Linked DNA regions of Homo sapiens. The protein of the gene in region 1 purifies or fractionates together with the protein of each later gene. This does not show direct contact. Each region holds a gene or a part of one and is shown in the gene's direction. Other genes may lie near its edges. The genes, in order: STPG2 and GDA.

What was found.
Region 2: the proteins of STPG2 (region 1) and GDA purify together in Homo sapiens (affinity purification with mass spectrometry; one large-scale study listed by BioGRID and IntAct). This does not show direct contact.

The regions. Positions count from the first base shown.
Region 1 is NC_000004.12:98,140,425-98,144,679, reverse strand, and holds the start of STPG2 (sperm-tail PG-rich repeat-containing protein 2), read left to right. Parts: upstream 1-1,203; 5' UTR 1,204-1,529; coding exon 1,530-1,638; intron 1,639-4,255.
Region 2 is NC_000009.12:72,155,824-72,159,641, forward strand, and holds part of GDA (guanine deaminase), read left to right. Parts: intron 1-2,996; exon of another isoform or gene 2,997-3,190; intron 3,191-3,818. UniProt on the Homo sapiens protein: Catalyzes the hydrolytic deamination of guanine, producing xanthine and ammonia.

The DNA.
Region 1 (4,255 bases):
GCAGGGACTTTCTTATGCCTTTGTATCCTCATAACTTAGCAGGGATGGAACCTACAGTATATGCCAATTCGTGTTTTTTAAGTGCATAAATAATTTAGCTAGCTATTGAACAGAAAAAAAGGTACTACAGATACATCCTTGAGAAGCATATAGCCTCGCAAGGAGAGGGTTCCGACCTATATGGCACAATGAAGCCACAGTAAATGTTGCACAGGATTGAGTGGCAAATCGTGTATTACAGAGTATGAAAACTATAAAAACTTGTAGTAGGAACAAATTAACGTACTGTAGACCATTTGGAGGTGAGGTATGATCAAGGTAGGATTTGTCTAAGCCTCTGAGGATATTTATAATCTGGACAGAATTCTTGCTAGAAAAAACAGCCTGCGAGATGCAGAGGTGGATTCTGACATAGATTCCTTAAGCCCCAAGGACAAGCAAGGTTTCTTTTGCCCAAGGTTCAGAATCATTGGTTTGGTGGGGTGGACTGGGCTTTTTCAGTGCCTTCGCTTTGCTTTTTAAATATTGATGAATCAGTATTGTGGTTACCTGGCATACGACAAAAGAGGCAGCTTTCAGTCACTTCCACGGCTTCAGTTGGTGAGCTTTTCGCCTCCTTGCCTGGTGTCCTCATTTCTTTTTTTTTTTTTTTCTTTTTTACCCTTATCTTATTTGTTATTTTTTTTTCTGGGTTCTCCATTTCTTGTCACTGCCCTGAGCCCTGGGTTTGTCTTAGCAGTTTGGACTATCTACAGGTTAAGATCAGAGGTGCCTTTTCTCTGTGAGTACGAGTGGGGCTGCAGTAGAAGCGGGGGAGAGCTTGCGGAACCCCAAGCTCTCTGCTTCATGCTACTGCATTTTTCTTTACTAGGTTCTGTTGAGTCGGGAAGCAGATCAAGGTCAAGTTAGTCCTCACCCTTCCTAACGCGTTTTCTAAGGTTCTTCTGCATACTTAAAAAAGTTCGGGACCTAAGTAGTTACCGGGACCCCAAGAGCTACGAGGTTTAGGCCTGCCTTCTTCAAGGCGCGCCGGGTTCCGGGTAAAAAGAGCCGGGAAAGGGTGGCTGCTCGGTGCGCATGCTCCGAGGGCTCGGCCCAGGAAGGCACCTCCACTTCGCTCCCTAGAGACTGGGCCCGCCTCCTCCCCAGAGACTGGGCCCGCCTCCTCCCCAGGCTTCCGGGCGGAGAGAAGTGGGCGGAGTCAGGGCCGGAAGCACCGGGGCGAGCGTCTAATCCCTAATACCCAATTTTGGTGGCGTGCACCTGGCAAACTGATGATTGTGTGGGACGTCTAATCTCTAGTCGCTCACCCCTCTACTTTACCACAGAGCTAGAAATCGATTTGAGGAAATCTGGTATCAATGAGCGGGCGGGGAGACAACCCCACCCCTAATTTCCCTGTTTACGGAAGTTCTTTCCCGGCCTCCTCAGACTGGTGTCGGCTTCCTTTTTCTCCACACTTCTAGCTACCTTGTTTTTATCGTTTTCGGCACCTGCCCTTCCCCAGCGCCCCCACCACCCCGAGCACTATGTATGATCGGGCTCCCCGCCTGCTCAAATTGGCTGAAGGTGGCAGCACTGAGGCCCATGTGGGTCCTGGATCCTACCAGGTACCTTTCCTGAAGCAGCAGGCGACAGGTAAGATGTAGGAAGAGGCAGAGCTCCTGTGACAGGCATCCTATCTTCAGCCTGCTCCGCTTCTGCGTGCTTGTGAGTTAAACATAGAGCGGAATAGTACCATTTTGTAAACATAACAAAACATGAAGTAGGCAGGGAAAACACTATACTTTTATTTTACAGATGAGACTGATAGTATCACTTGTCCCATTTCAAAAGGCTGGTGAGCATATGGCTAGGACTTTTGATTCCGCAATAGTTGTCTACATCCTACTTTTGATTGTGCAGTTTAGGTCTAGGATTTTGATTTCCTGGCTGTGTTGACATAATATATGAGTCTCCAAATCCTGTGCCCTTACCTCCCGCTGTCTCGTTGCTTTGTAATCCTGCCTGCCTCACATCTTTCCTCCCATTAACCAGAGACATTTATTTATTAAGATGTAGCTTATATTTCTATTTTGCAGTATTATTTAAAGATAGTTCCGTTTTTTTTTCAGACAGATTTTTCTGACCGTCCTCATCTCTTTTAACACACTTCAGGGGAGCCCCTTTTCTCCACATTCTGTAAAGAAAAATTATATTTTTGACCAGTGGAGTGGGGATGGATAATTTAAATAATATTTGCTCTCCTCGTTTGTTTGCAGTTAGTGACTTAGTCAAAAATAAATACATCAATTTTGCTTTCTACTTTTTCTATTCTGGTGATTTTCTGGAGCTTAATACCGTCCAAATGATAGTTTTTCTTAACCTACATTTTCCCCATACCTACACTATGTATTTTCAAGCAAATGCCAGGATCCATTATTCTGTTACATAACTGATCAGATAAGGGAAGGTTTAGGTTTCTTGGGGTGGAGTACAAATTTGACTTCTGTCAGTGTTTCACATGTTGAATTGTACTGCTTCACAGTATCTGGTATCACTATTCTTGCAGCTTATTCTATCTTTATTTTAATGGAGTTGGGCATTATAAGCATTAATTCCCCTAACAATGGCTAACAATGACCCCCTGTGACACTTTGCAATCCTTAATTTTGACATAACTGACCACTTTATTCTTGGAAACACTTCTTTCCAAAATGTAACATCATTTCCTCCTGTTTTTTTTTTTTTTTTTTTTCCCAACTACTGTCTTGGAAGAGTGTCTGGGAACATGATTGGGACCTAATAAACATTTGTTAAATGCCGAATCAGGGCATCATCTTCTCCCCCTCTCCAAGCAGTCCTTCATGGCCTTCTTTAAATGTTTTTATGTTTCTTGTTGATGAAAAGAGTCAAACTCTGTAAAATATTTTAAGAGATTTATTCCGAGCCAAATATGAGTGACCATGGCCTGTGACACAGCCCTCAGGAGGTCCTGAGAACATGTGCCCAAGGTGGTTGGGGTACAGCTTGGCTTTATGTATTTCAGGGAGGCATGAGTTATTAATCAAGTACACTTAATAAATACATTGGCTTTGTTCAGAAAGGCGGGACAACTCAAAGTGGGGGCTTCCAGGCTATAGGTAAATTTAAACATTTTCTGGTTGACAATTGGTTGAGTCTATCTGAAGACTGGCATCAAAAGAAATGTTCAGGTTAAGATACAGGATTGTGGAGACCAAGTTTTGTTGTGCAGAGGAAACTCTCAGATAGCAGACTTCAGAGAGAGGGAGCAGGTTGTAAAATGCTTCTTATCAGACCTAAAAGAGTGCCTGGCTCTTAGTTGATTATCTCCTGCATCTGGAAAGGAAGGAAAACGAAGGGGAAAGGGTATTCTCTATAGAGTGTTGATTTTTCCCACAAGAGACTTTGCAGGGCAATTTCAAGGTATGGCAAGGAAATATATTTTTAGGTAAAACATTTTGATTTTTTTTCCTTGTCTCATAATGTTATGCCAGAGTCAGATTGGAAAGTAAGCCACTATATATAGGATTAAATAAAATCCATCTGATAAGAATGTATAGTTTGTAGGGCGTGACTCCCTAGACCCCTTAGATAGGAATTTGGGCAAAATAAAAAAAATCAGAGCTTAGTCCTCATTTGACACATCTTTAAATGTTTATGTACTGTACTTCCAATCCTTTGCTTGTTACTTTTCTCGTGTGTACTTTCTCATTTGCTATCCATATTCTGATTCTGATGACTCCCAGAAGGAAATCTTAAGAGATACAGGTGATTTATGTCTCTAAGGTGAGCTTTCTCCTAATCTTTCGGCTTTCAACACTGCCAATCACTTTTGTTTGTTTTTCTCTTCTTTTTAATTCTTTTTTTGTTGCTGTTGATGTCCTTGAGTCATAACCAGTTACTTTTTTGAACATCTCTACCTAGATGGTCTCCGGTATCTGAAGTTTTAAGTGTCTGAGCTCATAATTTTTTCCAGCAATACTGGTCCCTTTTAAAATTTTTTTCCAGCAATACTGGTCCCTTTTTAAAAATTCCCTATTAGTCTATAATAAACTTTAAGTTTTGGAATTATTCTAGACTCTTTTCTCCCTGACTACTCCTGTTGATCATTAACACCTAATGATTCTATCTTCTCAGTGCCTGTTTGATTAGTTCCTCTTTTCCATTTAGCTGTCCTTGACTTAGTTCAAGCTCTCATTATTTCTATTTTGAATTAAACATATAAAATATTACTTGTTTTTCCTTATTTCAG
Region 2 (3,818 bases), on another chromosome or scaffold:
TACCTCTATCACTTATTACCTATGTGAATTTGATCAAGTTCCTTACCATTTGTATCTCCAAATTTCTTTATGCATAAAATAATTACTATGGTCTACCTAATAGGGTTGTTGAAAGGATAAAATGGATTAGTAAGTGTAAAATATATAGAATAATGCCTGGCATGTAGTACATGTCCATTAGACTTCAGCGGTTATTGTCAGTAATGCAGATGGAGAGGTGGATAGAATCAGTAGCTATTTAGATCAAGTTGACTGGATTTGATGATAGCTTACATATGTAAGGTTGGAAGGTAAGTGCATCAAGAGTGATCGCAAAATGTATGTAAATGTGTGTAAATAGTACAGTGGGGCACAAGTTGACCAGTGATAGGAAAAGCTTCTTGAAGGAAGTAGTAGCTGAATTGGACCTTTTAGGACTGGAACATGCAAAAGAGGATTATATAGCCCTGGTGAAAAGAGTGACCCAATGTTCTTCAGTTCTGAAGACTGCTGGGAGGAGGAAGAGTTCTTTCTCACCTGAGGCTACTTTACCAGAAGTTCTCTCAGTCTAAATCACAAATCCTAGTGATTGTGTATCATCCTTTCCTCCACTTCCTGCCAAGCTCAGCAACTCAAAATATGCTGTTGGTCCTGAGAAAGGAAACTGGGCTAATCCCTTCCTTCTGAGGCTGCTGAATAGGAGCTTGGCTTTCATCAGAAAGATGCTTTCACTCCCAATTATTACAAGATCATCTTGCAAATTCCCATTTTCTAGAAGGCTGATTGCTTGTTCAGAATGCTCATGGCAAACACTGTTGGTTACCCACTCAGCAGTCATGACCTCTTTTTCCTTATTAACACCTGAATTTGATCAGTCCATGGTAGACTCAGCCTGTGGATACATCATGGTGTAAGCCAGTCATGGTAATCCTATCTCCATTTATCAGATACTTATTCTTCCAGCTTCCTGGTAGCTGAGGGTGACTAGTGATAATATTCTGACATACAGGAAGTTTGCTCAGAAGCTTCTAGGATGTGGGAAGAGAAGCCCTGCCTTTTTTGGATACTCTCATATGAAGAAAAGATACTTGGAACTGCTGCTGCCACCATGTGAGACTGTGAGGAAAAGGTTAAGGGGATTTCAGAGACACCATCCCATTTTCTAACATCACTGAGCAGTTGAACTACCCCTACCTGGAACTGTCTACTATCAGACTTCTAGACTTCCTTTTTTTTTTTTTTTTTTTTTTTTTTGAGATGGAGTTTCACTCTTGTTGCCTAGGCTGGGGTGCAGTGGCGCGATCTTAGCTCACTGCAACATCCGCCTCCTGGGTTCAAGCGATTCTCCTGCCTCAGCCTCCCGAGGAGGTGGGATTACGGGCACTCACCACCATGGCCAGCTAATTTTTTGTATTTTTAGTAGAGATGGGGTTTCGCCATGTTGGGCAGGCTGGTCTTGAACTCCTGACCTCAGGTGATCCACCCACCTTGGCCTCCCAAAGTGTTGGGATTACAGGCGTGAGCCACGGTAGCCAGCCCAGACTTCTTTTGTGAGATATGAAATGTCTTTATTGTCTAAATCTCTGTTAGTTGGGTACTGTTCATTGCAGCCCAATGCACCCTCATTACTACACTGCTTTTCAATGAACAATATTTTACACTTTACAAGAATAACTACCTTCTCCTTCTTCTCCTTACTGGCCTTTCCAGGCACCCATATCAATAGTCAAGCCCAGCCAATTTTCCTCTGGGATTTCTGTGTGCATATTCACTTCCATTGCCCCCATCTACCCTTTAGTGTCTCTGAGCTAAAATATAACAGGAGACCCTTAACTGTTTTCTCTCATTCTAGTATTTCCCCCACATTACTGAAAACTCTTTTCTTGGACCATGGGTAGTATCATGTATCTACTCTTCTATAACCATCTATGGCTCACTATTGCCTCTAAGTTTCAAATGTCCTGGAAGATGTTCTAGGCATGACATTATTTGGCCCCAACCTGTTCTCTAATTCTTTCTGTTGCTTCATTTATCTGTCTGGCAAGTGGGAATAGGATTACCATGACTGATTTACACCATATTGTATCCATGAGCCAAGGGATGTCTATCCATGCAAATTTCTCCCTGTTTTCCAGCACATCATGTCCTTTTATGCCTCCACATTGTTGGCACCAATTTCTTTGCCTGGAATAGTCCTCCTTTTTATATCCCCATTTCCATTTTACTTCTATCAAAATGAAATCTTGCTCTTCCTTTAAGGCCCAGCTCTGATCTTCTCTTTTTCACAAAGGCTTTCACAAAGGCTTTATTCCCAAGTTGAAATAAATTGCCCCTTCCTCTGTTCTTCCATAAAATTTTTCATATATTTCAAATCAGTATTTTACAGGTAGTTAAGAACATGGTTTCTAGAGTCAGATTATGTGAATTCAAATCAAAACTCTGCTACTTACTAGGACAAATTTTCTGACATAGCTGAACCTCAGCATCCTCATTTAAAAATGTGGATTAAGGCTGGGTACAGTGGCCCGCACCTGTAATCCTAGCACTTTGGGAGGCCGAGGTGGGCTCATCACGAGGTCAGGAGATCGAGACCATCCTGGCTAACATGGTGAAACTCCATCTCTACTAAAAATACAAAAAATTAGCTGGGTGTGGTGGCAGGCGCCTATAGTCCCAGCTACTCGGGAGGCTGAGGCAGGAGAATCCCTTGAACCCGGGAGGCAGAGCTTGCAGTGAGCTGAGATCATGCCACTGCACTCCAGCCTGGGCAACAAGAGCGAAACTCCGTCTCCAAAAAAAAAAAAAATGTGGATTAATAGCACCTTGATAGAGTTGTGAGGCAAGTGAGATAGTGTGTTGTTATTATTTTTCTTTCTCTGAAGTAGTTATTCCAATTTGCCTTTGATTATACTTAGCTTTATAGAATGTTCTCACTCACTGAAATGATTTAAAGTTTTTGGAAAAAGAGAGATGAACTGGAGAAAAGGTAACACTTACTAAGTCATACTGTATTTCAGACAGTCTGCCAAATCCCTTACAAATCAACAACCTTGAGACAAGGTAAGGACACCATCATCATCATCATCATCATCATCATCATCATCTCTACTTTACAAATGAGGAAACGGAGGCTCGGAGAGTTACTTGGCTGCAGTCACAGCAAATAAGTGGCAAAGGCAAGACTCAGAGCCATGCCTGTCTGATGTCCAAGGTCCGTGCTCTCCAGGAGTCTCTGCTGTCTTCTGTCATGGAGAGGGCCAAAACTCTATTGTCCTAAGGCCCCTTCAACATTTCATGTTGTTTTAGCACAAAGTAGGTGGTCAGTAAAGTGTGTTGAATGTGATGTGTAATACAAAAACGAGGCAGGCAGATCACAAGCTCAGGAGTTCAAGACCAGCCTGGCCAACATGGTGAAACCCCGTCTCTACTAAAAATACAAAAATTAGCCAGGCATGATGGCAGGTGCCTGTAATCCCAGCTACTCAGGAGGCTGAGGGGGAAGAACTGCTTGAAACCAGGAGGTGGAGGTTGCAGTGAGCCGAAATTGTGCCACTGCACTCCAGCCTGGGTGACAGAGTGAGACTCCGTCTCAAAAAAAGAAAAAGAGAAAAAAAAATGAGTGATAGAACAAACCTTTCTCAGCAAACCCCACCTTAAAACCCAACTGTGTCAATATGAGTTTATTTACAGCCCATTGATTCATGAATTAAAAAAAAATTGAAGGCCAAAGCAATCACAAGGTAATTATAATTTAAAGTGAGTTATTCTAAACTTACATATAATGATATAAGAATTTTAAAATTCCAAGATTCTCCAGAAGCTTAAATGGAAAAATAAAG